4 linked regions of the Homo sapiens genome follow. The protein of the gene in region 4 purifies or fractionates together with the protein of the main gene of each other region. This does not show direct contact. Each region holds a gene or a part of one and is shown on either strand. Other genes may lie near its edges. The genes, in order: FRYL, ATG7, SIRT2 and KIAA0930.

Evidence for each region.
Region 1: the proteins of KIAA0930 (region 4) and FRYL purify together in Homo sapiens (affinity purification with mass spectrometry; 3 studies listed by BioGRID and IntAct, with this or other methods). This does not show direct contact.
Region 2: the proteins of KIAA0930 (region 4) and ATG7 purify together in Homo sapiens (affinity purification with mass spectrometry; 4 studies listed by BioGRID and IntAct, with this or other methods). This does not show direct contact.
Region 3: the proteins of KIAA0930 (region 4) and SIRT2 purify together in Homo sapiens (affinity purification with mass spectrometry; 2 studies listed by BioGRID and IntAct, with this or other methods). This does not show direct contact.

Annotation. Positions count from the first base shown.
Region 1 is NC_000004.12:48,560,276-48,567,312, forward strand, and holds part of FRYL (protein furry homolog-like), read right to left. Parts: coding exon 6,973-7,037; intron 5,417-6,972; coding exon 5,256-5,416; intron 4,769-5,255; coding exon 4,658-4,768; intron 3,828-4,657; coding exon 3,673-3,827; intron 2,714-3,672; coding exon 2,614-2,713; intron 1,362-2,613; coding exon 1,193-1,361; intron 1-1,192. UniProt on the Homo sapiens protein: Plays a key role in maintaining the integrity of polarized cell extensions during morphogenesis, regulates the actin cytoskeleton and plays a key role in patterning sensory neuron dendritic fields by promoting avoidance between homologous dendrites as well as by limiting dendritic branching.
Region 2 is NC_000003.12:11,555,370-11,558,175, reverse strand, and holds the end of ATG7 (ubiquitin-like modifier-activating enzyme ATG7), read right to left. Parts: 3' UTR 511-2,806; downstream 1-510. UniProt on the Homo sapiens protein: E1-like activating enzyme involved in the 2 ubiquitin-like systems required for cytoplasm to vacuole transport (Cvt) and autophagy.
Region 3 is NC_000019.10:38,882,588-38,889,624, forward strand, and holds part of SIRT2 (NAD-dependent protein deacetylase sirtuin-2), read right to left. Parts: intron 6,569-7,037; coding exon 6,500-6,568; intron 1,170-6,499; coding exon 1,040-1,169; intron 1-1,039. UniProt on the Homo sapiens protein: NAD-dependent protein deacetylase, which deacetylates internal lysines on histone and alpha-tubulin as well as many other proteins such as key transcription factors.
Region 4 is NC_000022.11:45,237,887-45,245,401, forward strand, and holds the start of KIAA0930 (uncharacterized protein KIAA0930), read right to left. Parts: upstream 3,009-7,515; 5' UTR 2,818-3,008; coding exon 2,754-2,817; intron 1-2,753.

The sequences.
Region 1 (7,037 bases), on a different chromosome or scaffold from region 4:
TGTTTGTCTTGCCTTAGAAACAGTGAAAGTGAAAATGTAGGTTAGCTATGGAATTTGTCAGGTTGAGAGGCTGTTTTGGTTTAGAATGAACTATCTTAAGCAAAGGAGTTAAAATTAGCTGATGCTAAGGACAAGAGTGTCTGAAGAGAGAACTGAAGGAAGAATGACAAGGTGGTGGGGGTGTGGGCATGGTGGACACCTGTACCAGCACACATCCTAGGCGATGACATGACATTCTAAACAGTTACATGATCTCTTGAGACCCAGCTGGACTCCTCTACTTTCTGTGCAAAAGCCTCTAGCAGCAGCTCAGCAGCCACAAAATCTGTGTTCACGGCGGCCGCTATTTTGTGTTGATGATCACTCATATTCATCTTGGAAGGGCTGTCACGGATGCGGGGGTTGGGAAAAAGGAAGAGGCATTGCTACCAACTACCAGGGCAAACCAAACAGGTCAACTGCTTTCAAGAACTAAATGTTATGAGAATTTAAGTTGTTGTTATTGCTTTTTTCTCCCACTCAGGTCAATTAGGGATGGGAAATAAACTATTTCTATTGCTAAAATAGGTGCTGTGCAAAGATCCCAAGCCAGCTAAGTCCACTATCTCTTGAGCCCAAATGAAATAAAGGACCCACAGCAGAACTCTGCAATCTCCCAGATCCCAGTGTTGGAGCATGGCCAGTACTTACACTGGAACAAGATCTTGATGTAGGCGACAAGCAACATGTGGGAGACTAGAAAGAGTTTTGCTCGAGGCACTGTACCACCTGCTCCTATGGTTAGGGGTTTCGCTCACGGAAAACTGCCTATAACTTTATCCCTGCCTATTTTTATTATTAAACATATGCCAATACACAAAATACAATGTATTCAAGAAGTCCTATGTCTACTAAGAAATACTTTTAAGTCACATGTGAAAAGTCGTCCCTCTTGTATTTTTTTCTTTTTGATGGAGTAGGGAGCGAAGGGAAGGTCAGGTATAAAACCCTATAAGGACGCCGTTGATAGAAAAACCTAAATATTGTGACTGATCAGAATTAAGAGTTCTTATTGAAGAAAAAAATATTTCCTATGTAAAGACATGTCTGGTTTTGATTTAACCTGTAATTTAATAAATTTATAATTTTCTAAAAATTGTTTCTGAAGAAATGATTGACAAATAGAAACTACTAACCAGTTCATTGATCATACCTGAGAATATGGCGAGAGTTAGCTCAGGATACGCCCTTGCTAGTTCCTCGGACAACTGATAATATGAAACAGAATAGAGATGTGGTAGAGGAGACAGCTGGCTGAGTACTCCATCTGTTCTCTGAACCTCCAATTTGTGAGCATAGCGAAACATCTTCGGTTCCAGAATCTATAGGAATGTGATTCCATCAACTTAGGTTAAGATTTTATGGGTTCTCTAAAGTTTAACTATAATTTTATAATTTTTAAAAAAACTCTTCTCCCCAGCTGAGTGGAGTGGCTTATGCCTGTAATCTCAATACTTTGGAAGGCAGAGGTGGGAGGATCACTTGAGGCCAGGAGTTCCAGACTAGCCTGGCCAACATAGCAGGACCTCATCTCTACAAAAAAATTAAAAAATTAGCCAGATGTGGTGGTGTGTGCCTGTGGTCCCAGCTACTCAGGAGGCTGAGGGTGGAGGGTCACTTGAGCTCAGGAGGTAGAGGCAGCAGTGAGCCATGACTGTGCCACTGTACTCTAGCCTGGGTGACAGAGTGAGACCCTATCTCAAAAACAAAATGAAACAAAACAAACAAAAACTCTTTCTCACTAAAAGAATTTACATTCCTCGTATTTAATGCCAATGATCCAGGTTAGTAACACAGTCTGAAAATAACTCCAGCAACTTAATATACGATTACTTGAAAAAGATTTACCACTTTTCTCGCACAAAAATATGGTAGTACAATATATGCATAAGTGAAAAAAAAAAACCCTTCAAGGAGGACCTTTCGACATTACACTATTTAAAGAGCTGTACTGCTGAACTTTCCTCTTAATTAACAAAGGCATTAGGGTATAATTCCTAAGATGGATCTACTGGCATCAGAACCACTTCAGAGCCTTTGGAAAAAGCACCTACTTGAATCCTATTCTTAGCCCTTGGTTAAGATGGAAGAATCTTGCCCTATTATGAATTAGTTAAGTATTGCATACTAACAATATATCCGTGTTTGGTAAGTTAACTTTCTAAGTTATTTCTCCTCAACCTAATAAAGAAAATTTACATGAGAATATGATAAAAAGAGCTAATTATTTTTCACATGGCTCTCCAAAAAAATTTGGACACACATTGTTCTCATCTGCTGAACAGAAATACTTACATGGACACATATTTATAAGTACCTTCATACACATACACACACATTATCATAAATAATCCTTCTACAATACACTTAGGAATAGTCTGCATTACTTATAAATTTAAATATCTATATTATCTTTGTCTTATACTTCTAATAATAATTAGGCCTTGATACCATAACTTCTTTACTATAAATAAAGCTAAATACTATTATCAGTATGCTTTAATAGCAAGACTAAATTATTGGGCTTCATTAAATCCTGAGTAAAAAAATATTTAAATTCACATGTTTACAAACCTGTAAAAGTTGCATAGCAACTTCATAGATACTTCTAGAAGAATCAGCTGCTTTAAACAGTATCAGATTTAGAAGCATCACTGTGTCACATTGATAATCCCTAGGAATAAATTTTACATATTAAGTAAATAACAATGTTTAGAGGCTTTTGCACCATTTAATAAATATGATATGCAAAGGGCAAGGCTTATAGGCATCTATCTTCTAAGCCTATGAGGAGACTTGGTTTTTTCAAGGCAATAGGTACAACAACAGATGCATGGTGATAATTGTCCTTATTTTGGTTAAATTCCATTAGAGCACACGTGTTCAACCTTTTGGCTTCCCTGGGCCATATCAGAAGAATTGTCTTGTGTCACACATAAAATACACTAAAAACAGCTGATGAACTAAAAAAAAAAAAAAAATCCATGCATAATTTTTGTAATATCCACCACCACAGATAAGCAAAAAGGTCCTCACATTCAAAGGGTTAGACACGGCTGCATTTGAGCTTAAGAAAAGAAAATACAGTCAACCCTCTGTGGATCAAAAATATGAGGGAAAGGCCAAGCGCGGCAGGTCATGCCTGAAATCCCAGCACTTTGGGAAGCCAAAGTGAGAGGCCAGGAGTTCAAGACCATCCTGGGCAACATACGTAGTGAGACCTCGTCGCTACAAAGAATTTAAAAATTAGCCAGGCATGGTAGTGGGAGCCTACAGTCCTGGCTACTCGGGAGGTTGAGGTGGGAGGATCACTTGAGCCTAGGAGTTTGAGGTTACAGTGAACTATGATCATGCCACTGCACTCTAGCCTGGGTGACAGCGAGACCATGTCTAAAAAAAAAAAAAAAGGAGTATACGGGAGGATTTGCATAGAGTAAATACAAATACTACAGCATTTTATATAGAAGGCTAGAGCATCCATGGATTTTGGGATCTGAGAGGGGTCCTGGAACCAATCCCCCACAGATACTGAAGGACAACTAAACTGGTGTCTTCCTATTTTTGAATTCAAAAGAAAAACTTTTCTTTAAGAAAACAGAACAAAATGAAACAAAAAACCTGTATCTAAAGTACCTGTTCTGGAAAACATTAGCAATGGCTTTAAAGCAGCCGGCCGCCACCCTCCCGGAGCCCGTGTAGCAGCGGTCCACAGCCCAGTACATCAGGTTGCTCTGATCAGGGTTCAGCTCCAGTAACAACGTAACTGCTTCACAGCCCAGCTGGTGAACCTAGGTAAAGGTTGTGAAATTGCCCGAGAGAGAACGTTATATATTTTTTGTCTATTTCCCTATAGTTCTTACTAAAGTAATATAGTGCATATATTCATTGTAATTAATAGAAAAATTCCATCTCCTTTTGTTCACCTCCCTCTCATTTTATTCAGCCAGCAGAAAAAACCACACAGATGAACTGAATTTGGCCTCTCGCTTTTTACGCGAGCCTCTCTAGTATGATTTTGTCTTCCAACAGAGCCCTGAAGGCAGTTAATGAATATGAATAGTGATTAGGTGCTTTCAGAAAAATGAGTCATTAACCTCTCCAATTATTTTTATCAAGCTTTATTCTTGTTTTTGATAACCCAATAGAAAAACTGTTCTGAGGGGAAAAAATGTAAGTCCTATTTTAAATTGTGAAGTCTGTATATGTACAATATGAGAGTAAGGAAGGCAGAGTGTGGAGGGCAAGGAGGAATGATTAAATGGAAAGTGGTTAAAAAAACGAAATGAAACATAGCAAATAACATATTTTTCCCATGCAGCTCAATATGTTCTATGCTGGTATTTTATTTATTGACTTAGAACCCTGTTGAGAGACACATACCACTGTATTAATCCTATAATATAAAAAGGGAAATGAAAATTATTCAAATTAATGATACATAAGAATTGGAACGTTTTTACATTATGGGATCCTATTTAACTTTATATAATATGCTTTTTGCATATGATCCTAACCTATCTTATTTTTTTAAAAGACTTGTTTTTAGTGCAACATACATTAACTGCAAATAATACAATGACAACTTATTATGAACCTTTAAGGAAATTGTCATAATTACCTTTTTGTCCAGAGAATCCAAAATGTTATCCAACCATTTGTACAAATAGCCATCTGATGAAAGTCCTACATTATCTGCAACAGGGCCACAACACAGTACAGCAGACATAGCCTTCAAATAATAATATTAGAATTACATTTAACAAATTTAAGAGGTTAAATGTTGGTTGCTTAATGAGAAGAGGCAAAATACTTATCTAGTCACAATACTTTAATCTTTTTTCTTTACAAATTATTTTTTAAAACTGAGAAATTTATTATGAGTAAGTAAATATGATACCAAATTAGACATGGAGTTTGAACAGTACTGGAAGGGAAGATAAAAAGACCAAGAAAAAGTAATTAAGTAAGGGAAAAAAGGCATTTCTTTCAAGTAATCCTAAGTTCTTTAAGATAATGGTGATCAAATTTGAGTAGATTCTGGAACTGTTTTTCATTGTATTTTATGTATTTAAATATAACTTATGGTATAAGTTTTGAATATGGCAGAAAAACATTTTAATACTCTCAGATCCTCTTTTTAATACTAGTGACTGAGAGACTTAAAAATACTTAACTCTGCTCTTAAGAAAAAAGAAATCAGGTTTCTAAGTAAATACCTTTAACGCACAGTATTGATGTCTATTAATTTGCATATTTCTATCACTGTATCTGTCCAAGGGCGTAAACATGATGCTAAAAGGACCTGCCCAGTGACTGAACAGCATAAATAGACTGTGACGAAGGCTCTGTTGAGGAAAAATACTTCTTCTCTGGTGCACTGTGAATAAAAAAAGATAGAAAACATTTATTTCCATTTCTTTTTGCTTTAACTTTTATACCAACATGTTATTGAATGTGTAATAGTGTAAAAAAGAAAGCAGAAGTTTTCATTTTAAACTATCAAAAACCTCCGCGGTAGCAGGGATCATTTATATATATGCAAATCACAGAAACAAAGTTGCAGTCTGTGTCACCCTGTCCCAGCATTACATGACATAGAGCATCTCTGCAAGCAGAAATTCCATGGCAGGCTCAATGGCACATGAAGGCTGGCACAGAGGTGGGGCCAGGAGTCCATTTCTCCCTGGGCTATCACTGGCTATATGGTAAGATTGGCCAAGATTTTAACACAGACACACCTCTGTATCTTGGTTCACTGGTAAGTAAGGGCTTTGGACGAGATACGTGTTTTCAAACTTTCTATTTTTTTTTTTCAGCAGGAAAGCTGCCTTTTCCTGCTAAAGGAAGCTTACATGTAATCTCAGTATATAAAACAGATAAAAGGGCAGTTCAGGCCTAGTGTCCAAACACATTCTGCTGCTTTCTGCGGATGGCATCAGAGAACCTCAGGGCTTTGAGAAACACCAAAGTTTGAAAACCACTGGTTTAAATGATCTCCAAGGATTTTTTTCCCCCATTTTGAAATTCTACTATATAATTTCTCTACATCTATCCTTCTTGAAGAAACTCAGCAGTATCACAATAAACCAATGTGGAAGTTGTAAAAAAGTGTTTAGTAATAGACTAAACCACATCTTTATATTAGTGAGCTTCAGATCAGAAAATTTCGAAAAAAATATGCTCTTTTCCTTTGACAGTGTCATTTTCCTTTCAAAGATGAAAACAAGGCTCCTACAGTTGAAATTGACATATGTAATTAAGTGCTTAATGACCCTGTTATAAAATACAACCCATGTTCTTTAGGTATCCACTGTCTGTATATACTATTCAAAATAACAATGTGACTTTAATTTTTCAAAGAGAAAAAGAAACACTTATAGTGTATGCCAAAGGCTAGTCACATTACTTCTTACAGTTGTAAATAATTTAACTTTTAAAAATGTAATTGTGTATATTAATCTTCCTAGTATCTAAACCAGTATCTGTCGATATAGACCCTACTCAATAATTGGAACATATCTGGTAAATCAGTAACACGGTATCCTTGTTACATTTTGTATTTATGGCCTATACTCTTTTCCCATTATTCAAAAGTATCTTCTTAATTTTATTCTCAATTATCATGAGACACTGCACTCTGCTTATTGCATCTAAAACAAGGCTATCCTAAAGAGCTTATTCTATTGATTTCTCCAGGTTTTTGTGTCAGTATCCTGATTATTACTGAAATTCTATGCTGGGTTGCTTTTTTATTTCTAATCAGTGACAATAATTCAAAGGGAAAACAAACTCCAGCCATCCAGGTTATGCTGACATATTTTTCCAGTATGTTCATACGTTACTTTATCAACTTAGATTATTAAACCTCAAGGAAAGAAAAAATATGACGGTTCCTTAATACTCAATAATGCTTTAAGAAACTGAAAATAATACCTGGAACATTCTGAATAATATTCGCCACTAAGGCACTAAAATGGCATCGTATATCCTTCAGTGTG
Region 2 (2,806 bases), on a different chromosome or scaffold from region 4:
CTTGAGACCGGGGTGTGTGTGGCTCAGCTTCCACGGCGTGTTTGGTTCGGTCCATGTGTGTGCGTGTGTATACTTGAAGAGAACTGTCGTGTCTGATTTGCACTATTGGAGGAGGACTAAAGTTGCCTGACAACTTTATGTGTTATGCCAGAACTCTGAGGGCAAACTGCTGAAAAACAAAGGGTTTAAGGATGACATTTCTGACCATTTGTGTGTTTGTTGTTGTTACTGTTTTTGTTTTTTTTAATGTAGACAATACAGCTTTGGAAGGGGAAGTCTCATACAGGTTATAGGTCTTTCTCTCTCTAGATTTCAGGTGCTTGCAACTGGACTGCAGACTCTACCAATCACGGGCATTTTATCTTCTCTGAACACTGCAGTTTGTTAGACTAGAGCTGAGGTTGGAGGATTCCATAGTGCTTTAAACGTGATGCATGTTTTAATGGAGAAAAAATAGCTGGTTTCTATTAATTATATAGACAGTAAACAAAAACCTTAATACTTACTATCTTCTTTTCAGAATTAGTTTATTTTTGTCAGTTACAGTCCTAGATATACTTACTGCTGGTACAGTTGTACTCTAAGATTGGTATTTGATATTCACTTTACTCACAAGTAGTGCGGGAGGCCAGCTCCTGGCAGGCCCTCGCGATGAGCAGTGGGTCAGCTGCGGTGTGGGATGCTGGAGTTTGGCTGCAGGCTGACATCATTTATTTTTGCATCCCTGTCTGCTTTGTTACAAGCTCCCAGGGGAGGTGGGGTTTGTGTCTTCCAACTTCCCTACATGCAGAAACTGCTCCCTTTGAACTCTCTTGGCTGAACAGCAGATTACTGACAGACAATCTGTGATATGGTGTTTTATACGCTTCCTCGTACGCTGGGGCCAAGGCAGTATACATTCCTCTGACTTTATACTGTTATTACTGCATTTATTATTTGCTATATTAATAGCTACTAACTAGAAATTAGATGAAGCAAGCATGACAGACACAGCTGTGGAGGTCACAGCTGCTCCTTTTTGGTCAATGAGCGTTTCTATCCCCTCCCCCTGGGGTGTGCTGTGTCCCACCTGGCCCACCAGAGGCTCACGACGATGGCACCTGACCAGGTGACGTGGGCGTGGTCACCTCACCTGCAAGGCTTTGTGGACTCTGCACACCGTATGACCCCCGGTTTTACAGTTTTTAGCTGTTGAATTTTGGAAATTGGCACTGGGTGAAAAGGTCGGAGGACTGGCTCTTGTAGTCACAGAGTGGCTGCAGGCCTTTGAAAAGTGGAGGAAAGAAAAGCCCTTCTCCTTGCCCCGCACACATTTCACTCCCACTGTACTGGGCTTCCAAGCTTTGGCATTCAGGCCCCTATATTTTCTGTAGGAAAAATCGTTGAGAACACTTTTCTATATGGGTGATTTTGAGACCATCGTTACGCTGTGCGTAAAGAATGTACAGAGAAATTTGTAGGTATTTTTTGAAGAACATTAATTTGTTAATGATATGTAGCTATTTAATTTTTCCCTTTCCTATTGTAATCATTCATTTTTTTTGTTGTTCGGAAAAAAAAAGTTGATCTTTTTTTTTGTCGTAGATTTGTCTGTAAAAGTGCAGGAACAGTTATTCTATGAGAACACTGCATCTGCATTCATAGCCACGAGTTTGTTATTGCTACAGGCTACTGAGCGTCGTAACAGGAAAACCACCCACAGCTGACCGGCTCGGTGGAGGACACTCCTGGGACAGGTCTCTTTGTCAGTGAACAAGGGCGTCACTCTGGGAGGGGTCGGCGGTGCTGGCGGCCGGGTCCCTGGTGCACTGACCTATCTGGGATAGGCAGTACCCTGGAGGGGGGCCTGGGGCAGAGGAGGCAGCAGAAAACCAAACATTTCACTGAGAAAGCCCCCTCCCTGCTCTAAGAAGGGGCTCCGTGAAGTTCTTCCCAGAGCCGCGCTGCCTGCAGTGCGCTCTGACCTTCTCTTCATGTGTGTAAATCTGTAATATACCATTCTCTGTGGCCTGTTTTTCCTGGAAGAAGAAAAAAAAAGGTTTGGCAGGCCATCTTTTTTTGTACTTAAAAGTAGCCTTAAGAACAATAATAAAGTGCTCTTAAACCACATAGTGTACGTGTGCAGTTTCAGCGCCAGGCTGGGTGGGCGGACTCGGGCCCTGCACCTGTGCCGGCTGTGTCCCCATGAAGCTCCCATGAGCTGAACGACAGCCACTGGAACTTGGACTGGCTACTTTGGGAGAAGCGAAGCCTCATTTGAAATCTACCCTACTAAATCCTACTGTTGTAAGGGTCAGCTCGACTCAATTTTCACTTTGATTCTGGGCCTAAGACAAAAGCTGAAAGAATAAAATAGCAGGAAAGACGATGCCCTCTACACGGGGGCAGGGTGGTCACAGGTACCTAGGCCATGGCCTCTCCTGGGTTGGGGCCTCACAGCTGCACACACCCAGAATAAAGAGGAAAACCAGCTCTTGCCTGAGTTACCCATGGTAGAGCCGTCTGACCCCTCCCTCGGCTGGGGCAGGAAGGCAGCCCAGGCTCGGCCTTTCTGGGCCTGGCCTGCTCATAAGGGCAGGGAGGAGCCCCATCCAGGCAGCTGCCAGGATCTGCCCCTGGGCTCTTCCCCCCAGCTCAAGGCAGCAGCAGAAACTCCTCTCCCTCAAGCAGGCAGGCAGGCACAGATGCTATGCCCACAGTGGAGGACAGGCTGGGAGGCAGAAAGCCATGTCTGAGCAGCTCACTCAGTCCTTGGTGGAAATCTGGCGTCACTGGGTCATGTGGGCCCTTTAGTCTCGTACCCAGC
Region 3 (7,037 bases), on a different chromosome or scaffold from region 4:
ATTGCACCACTGCACTCCAGCCTGGGTGACAGAGCAAGACTCCATCTCAAAAAAAAAAAAAAGAAAGAAAGAAAGCATTTCTGTCACTTGCAACCCACTGAATTCTAAGTCATTTGCTCAACTGTCCATTCATTCATTCAGCACACATTTATAAAGCATTGTTTCAATGTCAGTAGTCGGTAATTTTCTTTAAAATATTTCTGCATGGACAGCATGACACCGTGGGTGCTGCCTGTGACGCTGCTGTCAATGACACATAATGGGGGTAATGTGAATTGTACACTGCCCCCAGCTGCTTGCAGTTGGGCTATTCAGGAATCCTCAGCCCAGGGGCACTCAGCTGGCATTTTATCAGAACAGCCACACTCCAGAGGCCCTTCTGCAAATGCTGCAGCTGTCCTTATCTCACAGGGACACCAGAGGCTTTGTTAAATCAGCATAAAGAATGTCAGAAATGGCTTTCCATGAGTGGAATAAGTGACTTCTTGTTTTTTTTTTTTTTTTTTTTTTGAGACAGAGTTTTGCTCTTGTTGCCCAAGCTGGAGTGCAATGGTGCGAACTCAGCTCACTGCAGCCTCCGCCTCCCAGGTTCAAGCGATTCTCCTGCCTCAGCCTCCTGAGTAGCTGGGATTACAGGCGCATGCCACCACACCAGGCTAATTTTTTTTTTTTTGTATTTCTAGTAGAAACGGGGTTTCACCATGTTAGCCAGGCTGGTCTTGAACTCCTGACCTCAGGTGATCTGCCCGCCTTGGCCTCCCAAAGTGCTAGGATTACAGGTGTGAGCCACTGCTCCTGGCCTACTATCATATATTAAAAACAGCCAAAGACAGGAAATCAGGCAGTTGGGCTGCAGTGAGCCATGATCACCCACTGAACTCCCCGCGTGGGCGACAGAGTGAGACTCTGTCTCAAAAACAAACAAACAAAACAAAAAAACCCCAAAGAATTGAGCAGGACAGAATGGGTGCCCACTGCATGGAGACACTGCTCCTGGTGCTGAGAGGAGGCCTGCCCTCAGGATGCCCTCCAGCCTCACCTTTCATCCAGCTTAGCGGGTATTCGTGCCGGCAGCTGGCGCTGACGCAGTGTGATGTGTAGAAGGTGCCGTGCGCCTCCACCAAGTCCTCCTGTTCCAGCCCGGCTATTCGCTCCAGGGTATCTATGTTCTAGAGGGAGAGATGGAGGGAAGAGGGGTGAGGAGTGAGCCACCCCTTGTAGGCCAGAAGGCACAGTAGGGAGTTGAGGGCCACGAGGAGCAGTGAGGTGGTGGGGACAGGTGGAGAAGGGAGGGAGGAGAAGCAAGTGGCAGGGTTTATCTGAAGACTCTTCTGTTCATCCCAATGGTGCCACTTAAAGGGTGACAGTCAAGGCTGCTTAAAGGCAGGGGCCAGGCTGGGCATGGCGGCTCACGCCTATAATCCCAGCACTTTGGGAGGCTGAGGTGGGAGGATCACTTGAGGCCAGGAGTTCAAGACCTGCCTGAGCAACATATCAAGACGCTTGTCTCTACAAAAAATTAAAAAAAAAAAAAAAAAAAAAGGGGCCCAAACCTAAATATCTATGAGGCCAGGCCCACAGCCACTCCACAGCCTGTGTGGCTTTTATTCTGCAAATTCAGGCCATTTGCTTTCATTTTTCAGAAAAAAAATGTTGTTTTATTAGAGCCAGATGCTTTATTTCCACCTGTCATTAATTGCTGAAATTAACATACATTTACAATGTCTCTGTTATTAATGGAGCCCCCTCAGATGTGGCATCCTTGTGCAGTGCGCACCCTGCACAGCTGCATGTGGCAGCTCTAGGCAAGCATTAACATAAATGAATCAGGAGGGCTTACTAGGTGTGGTTTGTTTGTTTGTTTGTTTGTTTGTTTTTTGAGATGGAGTCTTGCTCTGTCACCCAGGCTGGAGTGCAGTGGCACAATCTCGGCTCACTGCAACCTCTGACTCCCAGGTTCAAGAGATTTTCCTGCCTCAGTCTCCCAAGTAGCTGGGATTACAGGCACGCACCACCATGACTGGCTAATTTTTGTATTTTTAGTAGAGATGGGGTTTCACCATGTTGGCTAGGCTGGTCTCGAACTCTGGACCTCGTGATTTGCTTGCCTCGGCCTCCCAAAGTGCTGGGATTATAGACATGAGCCACTGTGCCTAGCCATGTTTTTTTATGTATTTGAGACAAGGTCTCACTCTGTCGCCCAGGCTATAGTGCAGTGGTACAATCATAGCTCACTGCAGCCTCCAACTCCTGGGCTCAAGCAATCCTCCCACCTCAGCCTCCACATCTGGCTGATTTTTAAAATTTTCTGTAGAGATGGGGTCTCACTATGTTGCCCAGGCTGGTCAGCGAGCCTTCTGCCTCAGCCTCCCAATGTGCTGGGATTACAGTGTGAGTCATCATGCCTGGCCCTTCCTTGGCTTTAATCACTATCTTCCCCTTTAGTAGCCAGGGTCCTTTCTTACTATGGCCTGTTTCATAGATGGCATATTCACCTGTGTTCTTTTCTTTTTTTGGAGGCAGGGTCTTGCTCTGTCACTCAGGCTGGAGTGTAGTGGTCTGATCACAGCTCACTGTAGCCTTCACCTCCTGGGCTCAAGCCATCCTCCCACCTCAGCCCACTGAGTAGCTGGGACTACAGGCAAATGCCACCATGCCCGGCTAATTTTTTATCTTTTTAATTATTTTTGTAGAGATGGGGGGTGGGGTGGTCTCCCTATTTGCCCGGGCTGGTCTTGAACTCCTGGGCTCAAGTGATCCTCCCACTTCAGCCTCCCAAAGCGTTGGGATTACAGGCGTGAGACACCATGCCCAGCCACTGTTTTCTTTTCTTTTCTTTTCTTTTTTTTTTTTTTCAGATGGAGTTTCACTCTTGTTGCCCAGGCTGGAGTACAATGGCGCTATCTCGGCTCACTGCAACCACTGCCTCCTGAGTTCAAGCAATTCTCCCTGCCTCCGCCTCTCAAGTAGCTGAGATTACAGGCACCCGCCACCATGCGTGGCTATTTTTTTTTTTTTTTTTGAGACGGAGTCTTGCTCTGTTGCCAGGCTGGAGTGCAGTGGCGCAATCTTGGCTCACTGCAAGCTCCGCCTCCCAGGTTCAAGTGATTCTCCTGCCTCAGCCTTCCAGGTAGCTGGGAACACAGGCACGCGCCACCATGCCTAGCTAATTTTTGTATTTTTAGTAGAGACGGGGTTTCACCATGTTGGTCAGGATGGTCTCGATCTCCTGACCTCGTGATCTGCCCACCTCAGCCTCCCAAAGTGCTGGGATTACAGGTGTGAGCCACTGCGCCCGGCCACTGTTTTCTTTTAAGACAGTGAGACTTTCCATATTAAACAGGTGGGAATGTTCTTTTCTGCACAGACATTTGTGCGCGCTCATTTTTCTTAAAACAACCACCCCCTTTGGAGCAGCTGTTGTTTGCCTGTGAGGAATGCCGCTAAAACAGGTGCTGACAGAGGACACTGGCAGAGGTTACGCAGAGATGGCTCGCATGTGTGGCCCAGGGCCAAACTGACAGCGTTTCCCAGGGACTCCAGAAACAACGGGAAGGGTTTGTTTCCCTTCAAGGGCAGAAAGAATGCTCTAACTGCCTTCTGGGCTCCCTACCAGCAACCACCTTATCTCCAAAGCCTACAGACAAGAGTCACTGTCACTGTTCCCACACGCCCTGTAACTTTCCTCCCTTGCCCACTATTCTAAATCTTGGTTTTGCCTTTGGTACTTGACTCAGTCTACCCACTGACTCCCTCACATGTGAGTGAGCAATTTGCAAATAACTGAACAGTAAGCAAATAACTGAACAGCGTGGAAAAGAACCACCGAAATACCTCTGCGTTCTGTTATTCTTTGACAACATGGTTTTTTTTTTTTTTTCTTTTGACAGGATTTTGCTCTACTGGTCCAGGCTGGAGTACAGTAGCTTGATCATAGCTCACTGTAGCCTTGAAATCCTGGGCTCAAGCAATCCTCCTCTCTCAAGCTCCCAAGTAGCTGGGACTACAGGTGTGCACTACCATGCCTGGCTAATTTTTTTTTTTTTTTTTTTGAGATGGAGTCTTGCTCTGTTGCCCAGGTTGGAGTGCAATGGCGGAATCTTGGCTCACTGCAACCTCTGCCTCCCAGGTTTAAGTGATTCTCCTGCCTCAGCATCCTGAGTAGCTGGGATTACAGGCACGCACCACCACACCCAGCTAATTTTTGTATTTTTAGTAGAGACAGGGTTTCACCATGTTGGCCAGGCTGGTCTTAAACTCCTGACGTTGACTTTGGCCTCCCAAAGTGCTGGGATTACAGACGTGAGCCACCGCGCCTGGCCTTTATATAATAGTTTGTATGTGATGTGTCATTTTTTTTCTTTTTTTGAGACGGAGTCTCTCTCTGTCACCCAGGCTGGAGTGCAGTGGGGCAATCTCAGCTCAGGGCAACCTCCACCTCCCAGGTTCAAGCAACTCTCATGCCTCAGCCTCCTGAGTAACTAGGACTACAGGCATGTGCCACCACGCCTGGCTAATTTTTGTATTTTTCGTAGAGATGGGGTTTACAACAGCACCCCCTTTCCCGAACACATACACCGTTTCTGACTCCCCTTCCAGCTTAACTGTGTTCCAGGGACCCATGACCATCTTATATGCTCAGTATATGGTGTCTCCATCTTGTCCATCATCTCCCTCCCTGCTGTAGGGAATCAACTCAGTGAACATTTACTTTGACAGAAGCTGACAAACAAGGGCCAGCGGGGTCTTGGGGTGAGTGTCATGACATCAACCACAAAAAGCACTTGGCTTCAAGCAAGCTGTTATCATATCTGAGCCACGTCCTGGAATAATGGTGACTCTCTGGGCAGAAGGTTTATTCTGAGCCCGGAGTCTCCCTATGTTGCCCAGGCTGGTCTTGAACTCATGGGCTCAAGCGATCTCCCACTTTGGCCTCCCAAAGTGTGGGGATCACAGGACTCCTCCTCTTGGAAGAAGGAGGCCTCCGCTGCCCTCTGCCTCCTACCAGCCCCAGGTGGGAACACCTCGCCCACCTGAGAAATCTGAACTTAAAGCCAGTTGTTCCTCCCCCTGGCGGTAGCTTTTGGGGCTGCAGGTGCCAAACTGCAGGTACAGGGAGAAAACACTAGAACACTTATTTATTTTCAATGTTACCACTCTTTTTTGTTTGTTTGTTTGTTTTTTTAAATTGAGATGGAGTCTTGCTCTGTCACCCAGGCTGGAGTGCAGTGGCACAATCTTGACTCACTACAACCTCTGCCTCCCAGGTTCAAGCGATTCTCCTGCCTCAGCCTCCCGAGTAGCTGGGGTTACAGGCACCACCACACCTGGCTAATTTTTGTATTTTTAGTAGAGACCAGATTTCATGATGTTGGACAGGCTGGTCTTGAACTCCTGACCTCGTGATCTGCCCACCTCGGTGTCCCAAAGTGCTGGGATTACAGGCGTGAGCCACCGCGCCCGGCCACCTGTTTTATAATTCGGGGTTCTGAGGTGTGATCTAGAGCTTGAATTAATACTGTTGTAGTGCATCATGTCATTTCTATACATATTCATAAAACAGGTAGAGGCAGCAACATTTTGTTGTTGTTTTGATTTGTTTTTTGTTTCTTTGAAACCAGGTCTCCCAGGCTACAGTACAGTGGCACCATCATAGCTCACTGCAGTCTTGACTTCCTGAACTCAAGCAATCCCCCTACCTCAGCCTCCTGAGTAGCTGGGGCTACAGGCACACGCCACCCTGCCCAGCTAATTTTTGTATTTCTTGTAGAGACAGGGTCTCCCTATGTTGCCCAGGCGGGTCCCAAACGCCTGGGCTCGAGCTATCTCTCGCTTTGGCCTCCCAAAGTGCTGGGATTACAGGTGTGAGCCACTGTGCCCAGCCCATCAAGATTTTTTTACTGTTAGGGGTGTGAGACTCTCCAAACCAGAAGCCAACAATGTGAGCCATCCTTGCTTGAATGCCCCAGGGAGAGGCCCTTGGCTAAGCACCTGACGTGTACGAGACATGTTTATAATTGGGCAAAGCACAAAAAACTATAAAAAGGTGCCCCTTCCTTAAGGCACAACATCTACTTGTTGGACACGTGTCATAGTGTATGGATTTTGTTAGATGAAGTCACTTTGGAAACTCGCTCATAACCAATGTGAAATCTGGGGTGCCTATAGTGCACACAGAGTCCCTTCAGCCATAGGCTCCTTCCACATCACACATGGGATGGCCCTGAGAGGAGGTCACTGCCACCGCACTGCAGACCTGAGAGGGCAGACCTGAGAGGGCAAACCTTTTCTGGCCCCTGTTTGACGGAAGGGGAAACTGAGGCAGAGAAGACGTGACTCACGGCAGGTCATGCAGCAAGGAGGCAGTAGGCCAAGCCCTGGCCCCGCATTGCTGGAGTCCCCGCCTGAGCTCTTGGGCACGCAGCTCTGCTCCTCTGCTGAGGACACCATGCCCGTTCCACCCGCCCATCCTCCTCCCAGGATGCTCGCATCCGCCTACCTGCGTGTAGCAGCGCAGGAGTAGCCCCTTGTCCTTCAGCAGGCGCATGAAGTAGTGACAGATGGTTGGCTGCAGGGAAGAGCGACAGCACTGCTGACGACTGCAGGGAACAGCCACAGGCCACTGCCGCATGCCAGGAACTGTTCTAGGCACTGTGACTGTTTTACCCCCAGGGAACCGTCACAGCAGCCGCGTCGGGGAGAGACCACTGCTATCCCCAGATCACAGATGAGGAAACTGAAGGACAGGGAAGGGGATTGTGTTGCCAAAGTCACACGGTGGGTAAGCTGCAGAGCTGAGATTCACACCCAGGCAGCCCGGCTGCAGGGTCCCGGGCTCTCAACGGCATCATTAGTCAGCTAAGCCTCGCAGCAGCCCTCTTCAGACAGTACCATTAGCTTCACTTCACAGGAGGCAAATCGGAGGCTCAAGGTCGTAAGATGAAGACACGAGGAACCAGGACTTGAACCGAGGCAGTCTGGGCCCAGCACCCATGTACTTAATGGCTACATAATATTTGTCTGCAGGGCCTTGGCGG
Region 4 (7,515 bases):
TCGCTGAACATCAAATCTCTCATCTGAAAAATGAGCCCTTTTTTTTTTTTTTGAGACAGAGTCTCACTCTGTAGCCCAGGCTGGAGTGCAGTGGCGTGATCTCGGCTCACTGCAACCTCCGCCTCCCGGGTTCACACCATTCTCTTGTCTCAGCCTCCTGAGTAGCTGCGACTATAGGCGCCCGCCACCACGCCTGGCTAATTTTTTTTTTTGTATTTTTAGTAGAGACGGGGGTTTCCTCATGTTAGCCAGGCTGGTCTCAAACTCCTGACCTCATGATCCGCCCGCCTCAGCCTCCCAAAGGGTTGGGATTACAGGCATGAGCCACCACGCCCGGCCAAAAATGAGGCCTTCTAAGAAGCTAAGATTCCCATCTCCGTGGCCCTCCACGCCCTTCATCTGCCAGTCCAGATAATAATTTTCTCACTTGTTCACTAAATGTTTACTGGGCACCTGCTCCGTATGTGCCCCATGCTGGGCACCAAGATGAATCAGACTGGGTAATGCCTTTGAAGGCCTCACCTGCTAACTGGGGAGACAGCACACAGACCATGACAAGGCCACAATCATCCTGATTGTCCCAACAAACATGTGCCTGGCACAAAGAGAACACAGGCAGAACAGGACTGTGTGCCTGGGAGCTGGAAAGAGTTCCCGGAGAGGCAACACTGGAGCTGAGACTTAAAGGAAAACTTAGAGATGCTTGTGGGGCACATGAGTAGGGGCGGCTTTCCGGGCAGAGAAAACAGCAGGTTTTCTCTGCTTCAGAGCCCTGCAGGGACTGAGTTCAGCAGCAGGGGAAGAGGGGAGACCTGGCACGTGCGGGAGGCCTGGAGAAGAGACAAGGAAACAGCGTGAGTATCGTAGGCACATAAAGACCTGGCTGGGGATATTCAGGGAGTGGAGGGCAGGCTCTGAGGTCAGGCTGGCAGAGGGTCAGTCCCGGCTATGCTGCTATGCTGCTTCCTCATTGGTTGTCCCTGGGCAGGCTCTCTCTCTCTCTCTCTCTCTCTCTCACCCTCAGGCTCTTCATCGCTGATATGGAGATAATACTGCTCCCTGGCAAAGTCAGCATTGTGTCAGGATTAAATTTGCAGCATGAGTAAAGCACCCGGCACATAGTAAGTGCTCAGTAAATGCTAGGTGCCATTTTCACTGTTCACTGTTCTTCTGGGAATGGCCCTGCAGCCTCCTTGCGGGAGGGGCTGCCTAGAAGAGGAGAGAAGGTGCTCACAGGTAAAGGTGGTCAGAGGACAATAGGTGTGTGTGGACAGGGGAGTGGGGAGGGACTGCTTGAAGCTGCTGAGCAAACAGGGCCAAGTGACCTGCAGCAGATGGTCCTTCAGATGCATCCCAGCTCAGATATTCGGTGCCAGCTGACAGGTGGGCCTGCCACGGTGGCACACAGTAGGTGCTCAATGAATGTTTGCAGAATGAATGAATAAGCACGCTCCAACTTCTGCTCAAAAGTAAATCTTGACACCTTTTCAGAAAGAAACCATTGAAACCTTGTCAACCATTGAAGTTCTTGTCCATTTCACTTCATAAGCACCCCCCACCCCACCCCTGCATGAGGAAAGGCTCGCCTGGGCAGGCTAGGCTGGGGCCTGCTCACTGGGAAGCCTCCCATGCTAAGCCTGCCTCCTACAAAAGGGATTCAAATTTACTTCCTCTCTCCACTCCAGCCTCCAGGGTGTGGCCTGCTGAGGGGCCCTGAATGCCTGGGACTGCCATGTCCCTGCAGCTGTGTGACCTTAGGGGGATGCACTTGTTCTCTGGGACTCAGTTTCCCCAACGGTGAATGAAGGGGTGAATCTGGAAGGCTGACATTCCGTACTCAGCAATGCTGTCACCCCCTCAGAAATCCCCAGCCTAGCCTGGGGGTGGGGTGGGGGGTGGCTGACAATGTGGTATGAAGTCATTCCCTGCACGGAGGAGGGAGGGGTCTTTTCCATGGAGAAAATGACGAACCTGAGACGACAAAAGAGGGGGCTTCTCCTGGGCTTCAGTCTGGGCATGATCCATCAGTAATGGATTACCTCACTGGCTGGGAGACCCCACCCACACCTGCAGTCCCAGGCCCTTCCAAACAATACGAGGCACCCCCATCCCACGCCCCCCAGCAGATCCATGACTTAAAGCCCAGAATCACACCGAGAGGCAGCAGGCCCTGCCCCTCAGCCAAGCGGGCGGGTTCGGGGGGCCATTGCCCAACAGGTCCCTGGATACAGCTAAGGGATGAGAGGGGCCGGTGGGTGCGGAAAGACAAAGGCTTCGGGTAGCAGGAGACAGTGGCCAGGGCACGCTCGCAGCGAGGTCCACCCAGAGCCCAACGAGGGCCCGACCCTGCCGCGCTGGGCTAAGGGTGTACCCAGATCCCACGCCCACACTCCCTACCGCGGTGCTGAGGGCCCGGGGCGGGCTTCCTGGAGAAGGAAGAAGACCCGCAGAGACACGAAGAAGAAGGAGGAAGATGAGACAGACACCCGGACGGACTGACAGGGGGAGACGCCGAATGAGACCCGGGCACAGGGGTGCGGGGCGCTCGTCGGACGGAAAGCAGAGACAGACCCAGATGCAGGGACGGTGGGGGGGGGGCCATGGAGGAAGACAGGGTACCCAGGCAGACCCAGAGACCACGACACCCGCGCAGAGACAGAGATGCGCGGGGCGCACAGAAACACGGACGCGCAGAGGCGGCCCCGGAGACGCTCACCTCTCCCGGCCCGGCCTCGCCCCCGGGTCCCACTCACCGAGGCCGCAGACCTCGCGGCGCAGGCTAAGACGGCCGCGCTCCTCCGCTATGGCACGCAGCATGTGCTGCAGCGAGCGCTCCTCGGCCTCGGCGCCGCCCGCAGGCTCGGGGGCGGCGGCGGCGGGGAGGGCGGGCGGCCCGGCCCGCAGCCCGCCGCGAGCACCAAGGAAGCCACAGTCCGCCTCTGTGCGCGTCGCCGTCGCCGCCGCCGCCGCCACCACCCGCCAAACACAGCACCGGCGAGCGCACCTCCGCGCCGCCGCCGCCCGCGCGCCCCCGGCTCCGCTCGCCCCGCCCCGGCCCGGCCCGGCCCCGGTCCGGCCCCGCCCCTTCCCCGCCCCGGCCCCGCCCCTGTCCCCTCCCGCCCCGCCTCTGAACGGCCCGGACCCACCCCGGCTCCCTGGCCCCGCCCCCTGACCTCCCTTGCCCCGCCCACTTCCAAACGGCCAGTCTCCGCCAATCTTCGGATGCCCAGGACAGCCTCCCTCAAACCGCTCGCGGGGTCCCGCCTCCACCCAAGGTCCTAAACGCCCCACCAACGGGATCACGCCTCTGAGCCCCTCCCGCCGCCCCTTCAGGGCACCTCTCCCCTCCCCCGCTGCTACCCCACGGGATGTGTACTTTGTCACCCGCCCTGTGCGTTGCCACCTCCACCAAGTCCCCTCGGCTGACTTCTGGGAACTTCCTCCGCAGAACCCCTCAAGAGGTCACCTGCTCCCAGAAGGTGGTCTCCTGGGGGACACCGTGGCAAAGCCCTTCCGGCCCCCCTCCTCTGCACCTGGCACAGTGCAGAGTGTTGCGCCTCCATTTCCTCAGCTGCACCATGGGGGACCTTTCCCTGCCTTGCCTCCCCAACATGGGGGAGTGTTGATGAAGGGGGAGGTATGAGGTTAGCTGGGCGTGTCATCCTGATGAAGCCAGGTCTGGCCAGCATCCCTCCGTGTGCTAGTTGTGGCTGATACAGGAAGACACCGGAGAAGCAGCCAGTGGCCTCCCCAAACCTCACGCCTGGTGGTCCATTTCCAAGAACAGGGGGAGATGGAGAGACCAGCATTGATTTCCAGGTCTCTCCAAAGCTAAATCTACATCACTCCCTGCATTCACAGCCTGTGTGTGGACCCCAGACCCATCAAGGTCCCCCTTTCCCCTGTCTGGAGTCCTCTTCTCCCCATTCCTGTGTAACTTGCTTCCTTTGTGTCCCGAGTGTCACATCCTCAAAGAAACTCCCCTGACCGCCTTCCCTCCCTCTCTCTTCCCTTAGTCTGTTTCTCCTTCACAGGGTGACACTTACCTCCTCCCGACACATTGGATACCTATGGGTTCACTTGTTCTCTTCTCTACCGAGGGAGGGGCCTGTCTACTACACAGCTGTTGTCTCAGTACCCAGAACATTGCCTGGCACACATTAGATGCCCAATAAATAGATATGGGCTGCAGGCTGGGCACAGTGGCTCATGCCTGTAATCCCAACACTTTGGGAGGCCGAGGTAGGTGGATTGCCTGAGGTTAGGAGTTCCAGAACAGCCTGGCTAAAATGGTGAAACCCCATCTCTACTAAAAATACAAAAATTAGCCGGGCATGGTAGCACACATTTGTAATCCCAGCTACTCTGGAGGCTGAGGCAGGAGAATTGCTTGAACCTGGGAGGCGGAGGCTGCAGTGAGCCGAGATCCCGCCACTGCACTCCAAGCTGGGAGACAGAGCAAGACCCTGTCCCCCCCCAAAAAAAAAGAAAAGAAAAGAAAAAAAAATGTAGGCTGCATAAACGAAGAATGATGGAGAGGTCTGATGGGGACGCAGGGGTCTTCCTGGGAGGCACAGCAGGAAGGAGCCGTGGGGTTGGGCAGAGCCCCAGAAGGGAGATGGGATCTGGATCCTGCTTCAGGCCTCTGCCCCAGTTTTGTGCCACTGGCCCCTGAACTCTTCAGAGCAGAGCCACATCTGACCCCTCTGTGTCCCCAGTGCCAGGCCCAGGAGGGCTCTGTAGAAAGGTGAGCAGTGAGGGAATGAAGGAAGTGCGCGACCAGCCTCACGTGTATTTCTCTTCTCCAGTGGGCCTGCATCCCTGTCTGTAAAGTGAGGACACTGGCATGAGGGCTGAGGCCTCTGGTTCTGCGTCTGGAGAGCTGGGGTTTGGGCTGGTGGACGTGAGAACTGGGGATGGTGGATCAGACAGCATGAGCGAGTGCTCCAAGGCTGTCAAGTCCAATAGTCACATCCCTCTTTGCCTCCCCAAACCCCACAGCACCCCCTGCCTGTTCCCACTGCCATGCGTTTGCCCACAGTGTTCCCTTGGCCTGAAATCCTTTCTGCTCCGCAACTGTAGTTGCCTTTGGGACCCACATTGCCTGGTTACGCTTGGCCAATGCATTGTGTTCTTATTTGCTTCACAAACCCCCTTTCCCCACCCCACCCTCCTGCACACAGTTGCCTCCGTGTATTCTGTGTCATATGACCAGCATTGAACCAATTCATCCCACTTCCCGTGGCACCCAGCCCAGGACTGGTGCCAGAAAAATATCTGTTGAATGAATGAGTAAACAAACATCGCTTGGGCTCTCTCCTTTGTATTTCAATAATACTCCAGGTATTACCTATACACAGAATTTTCTTTCTTTCTTTTTTTTTTTTTTTTTTTTTGAGGCGGAGTTTTGCTCTTGTTGCCCAGGCTGGAGTACAATGTCGCGATCTCGCCTCACCGCAACCTCCACCTCCCAGGTTCAAGCAATTCTCTTGCCTCAGCCTCCCAAGTAGCTGGGATTACAGGCATGTGCCACCACGCCCGGCTAATTTCATGGAGATGGGGTTTCTCCATGTTGGTCAGGCTGGTCTCGAACTCCTGACCTCACATATACACAGAATTTTCTAATGTCAACAAATGCTAAATCACACTGTGCATGGGAAGAGGGCAGGAGCAGGACTTCTGGGGCTACAGAGCATGTTCTGTTTCTTGATCTGGGGGCTGGTTACACGGGTGTGGTCAGTTTATGAAAATTAAAAGGCTGCACAGCTGGGCATGGTGGCTCACGCCTGTAATCCCAGCACTTTGGGGGGCCAAGGCGGGCAGATCACCTGAGGTCGGGAGTTCGAGACCAGCCTGGCCAACCTGGCGAAACCCCATCTCTACTAAAAATACAAAAATTAGCTGGGCGTAATGGCACACACCTGTAGTCCCAGCTATTCTGGAGGCTGACGCAGGAGAATCGCTCGAACCTGGGAGGCAGAGGTTGCAGTGAGCCGAGATTGTGCCACTACACTCCAACCTGGGCAACAGAGCGAGACTCCATCTCAAAAAAAAAAAAAAGTTAGAAAATCAAAAGGCTGTGTGCTGTGGTTCAAACCTGTAACCACAGCACTTTGGGAGGCCAAGGCAGGCAGGAGGCTGGCTTAGGCCCAGGAGTTTGAGACCAGCCTGGCCAACATAGCAAGACCTCATCTTTACAAAAAAAAAAAAATTAGCCAGGTGTGATGACACACGTCTGTGGTCACAGCTACTCAGGAGGCTGAGGTGGGAGGATTGCTTGAGGCGGGGAAGTCAAGGCTGCAGTGAGCCGCGATCACACTGCTGCACTCCAGCCTAGGCAACAGAGTGAGACCTGGTCTCAAAAAAAAAATATATATATATGTATATATAACATATATATATGTAATATATATAATATATATGTTATATATGTAATATATGTATGTAATATATATATAAAGCTGGCATTTTGTAATTATTTATGCACTTTTCTGTATACAAATATTCAGAATATAAAATAGAATTGAAAGTATATAGGCAGAATAATGGCCCCAAAATGCCCACACCCTAATTCCTGTGCTAATTCCTGTGAATATGTTGCCTTACCTGGCAAAATGGACTTTGCTGACGTGATTTTTTGTTTGTTTGTTTTCGAGACAGGGTCTCACTCAGTTGCCCAGGCTGGAGTGCAGTGGCACGATCTTAGCTCACTGCAACCTCCACCTCCCCAGCTCAATCCATCCTCCCACCTCAACCTCCTGAGTAGCTGGGACTAAGGGTGTGTGCCACCACACCCGGCTATTTTTTGTATTTTTTGGTAGAGACAGGGTTTCACCATGTTGGCCAGGCTGGTCTCGAACTCCCGACCTCAAGTGATCTGCCCACCTCGGGCTCCCAAAGTGCCGGGATTACAGGCATGAGCTGCCACATGGGGCCTAAGAGTACAGACACTGAGATAGGGAGACTATCCTGGGTTATCCAAGTGGGCCCAATCTCATCACATAAATTCTTAAAATCGGGGAACATTTCCTGGCTGTGGTCAAAAAGAGATGTGACAACACAAGAATGGTCAGGTAAATGCAATGTTGCTGGCACTGAAGAGGGAGGAAGGGGCCACAAGACAAGGCATACAGGCAGCTTCCGGAAGCTGGAAGAGGCAAGGAAACAGATTCTCCTACAGTTGCCCCCAGATATGACACAGCCCTGCCTGCACCTTGACTTTAGCTCAGCAAGACCTCAGTTGAACTTCTAACCTACAGAACTGGAAATGTGTTAAGGCAATAACGTTGTAGTAATTATTACAGCAGTGATACCAATACGTGGGCAAGCCTGAGATGTGGGCATTGTGTCAGCTCTCCACCTAAGCGCTTCTATCCCTGAGGTTTATTTTGCAAACACTTAGAACAACAATCAAGCAAAGTTTAGCAGAAAGAAAAAACAACCACAATCCAATTGCTTTAATAGGTCAGTCTTGCTTCATTTTTCAGAGTTCCTGCCCGGGGTTTGCCTAATGCC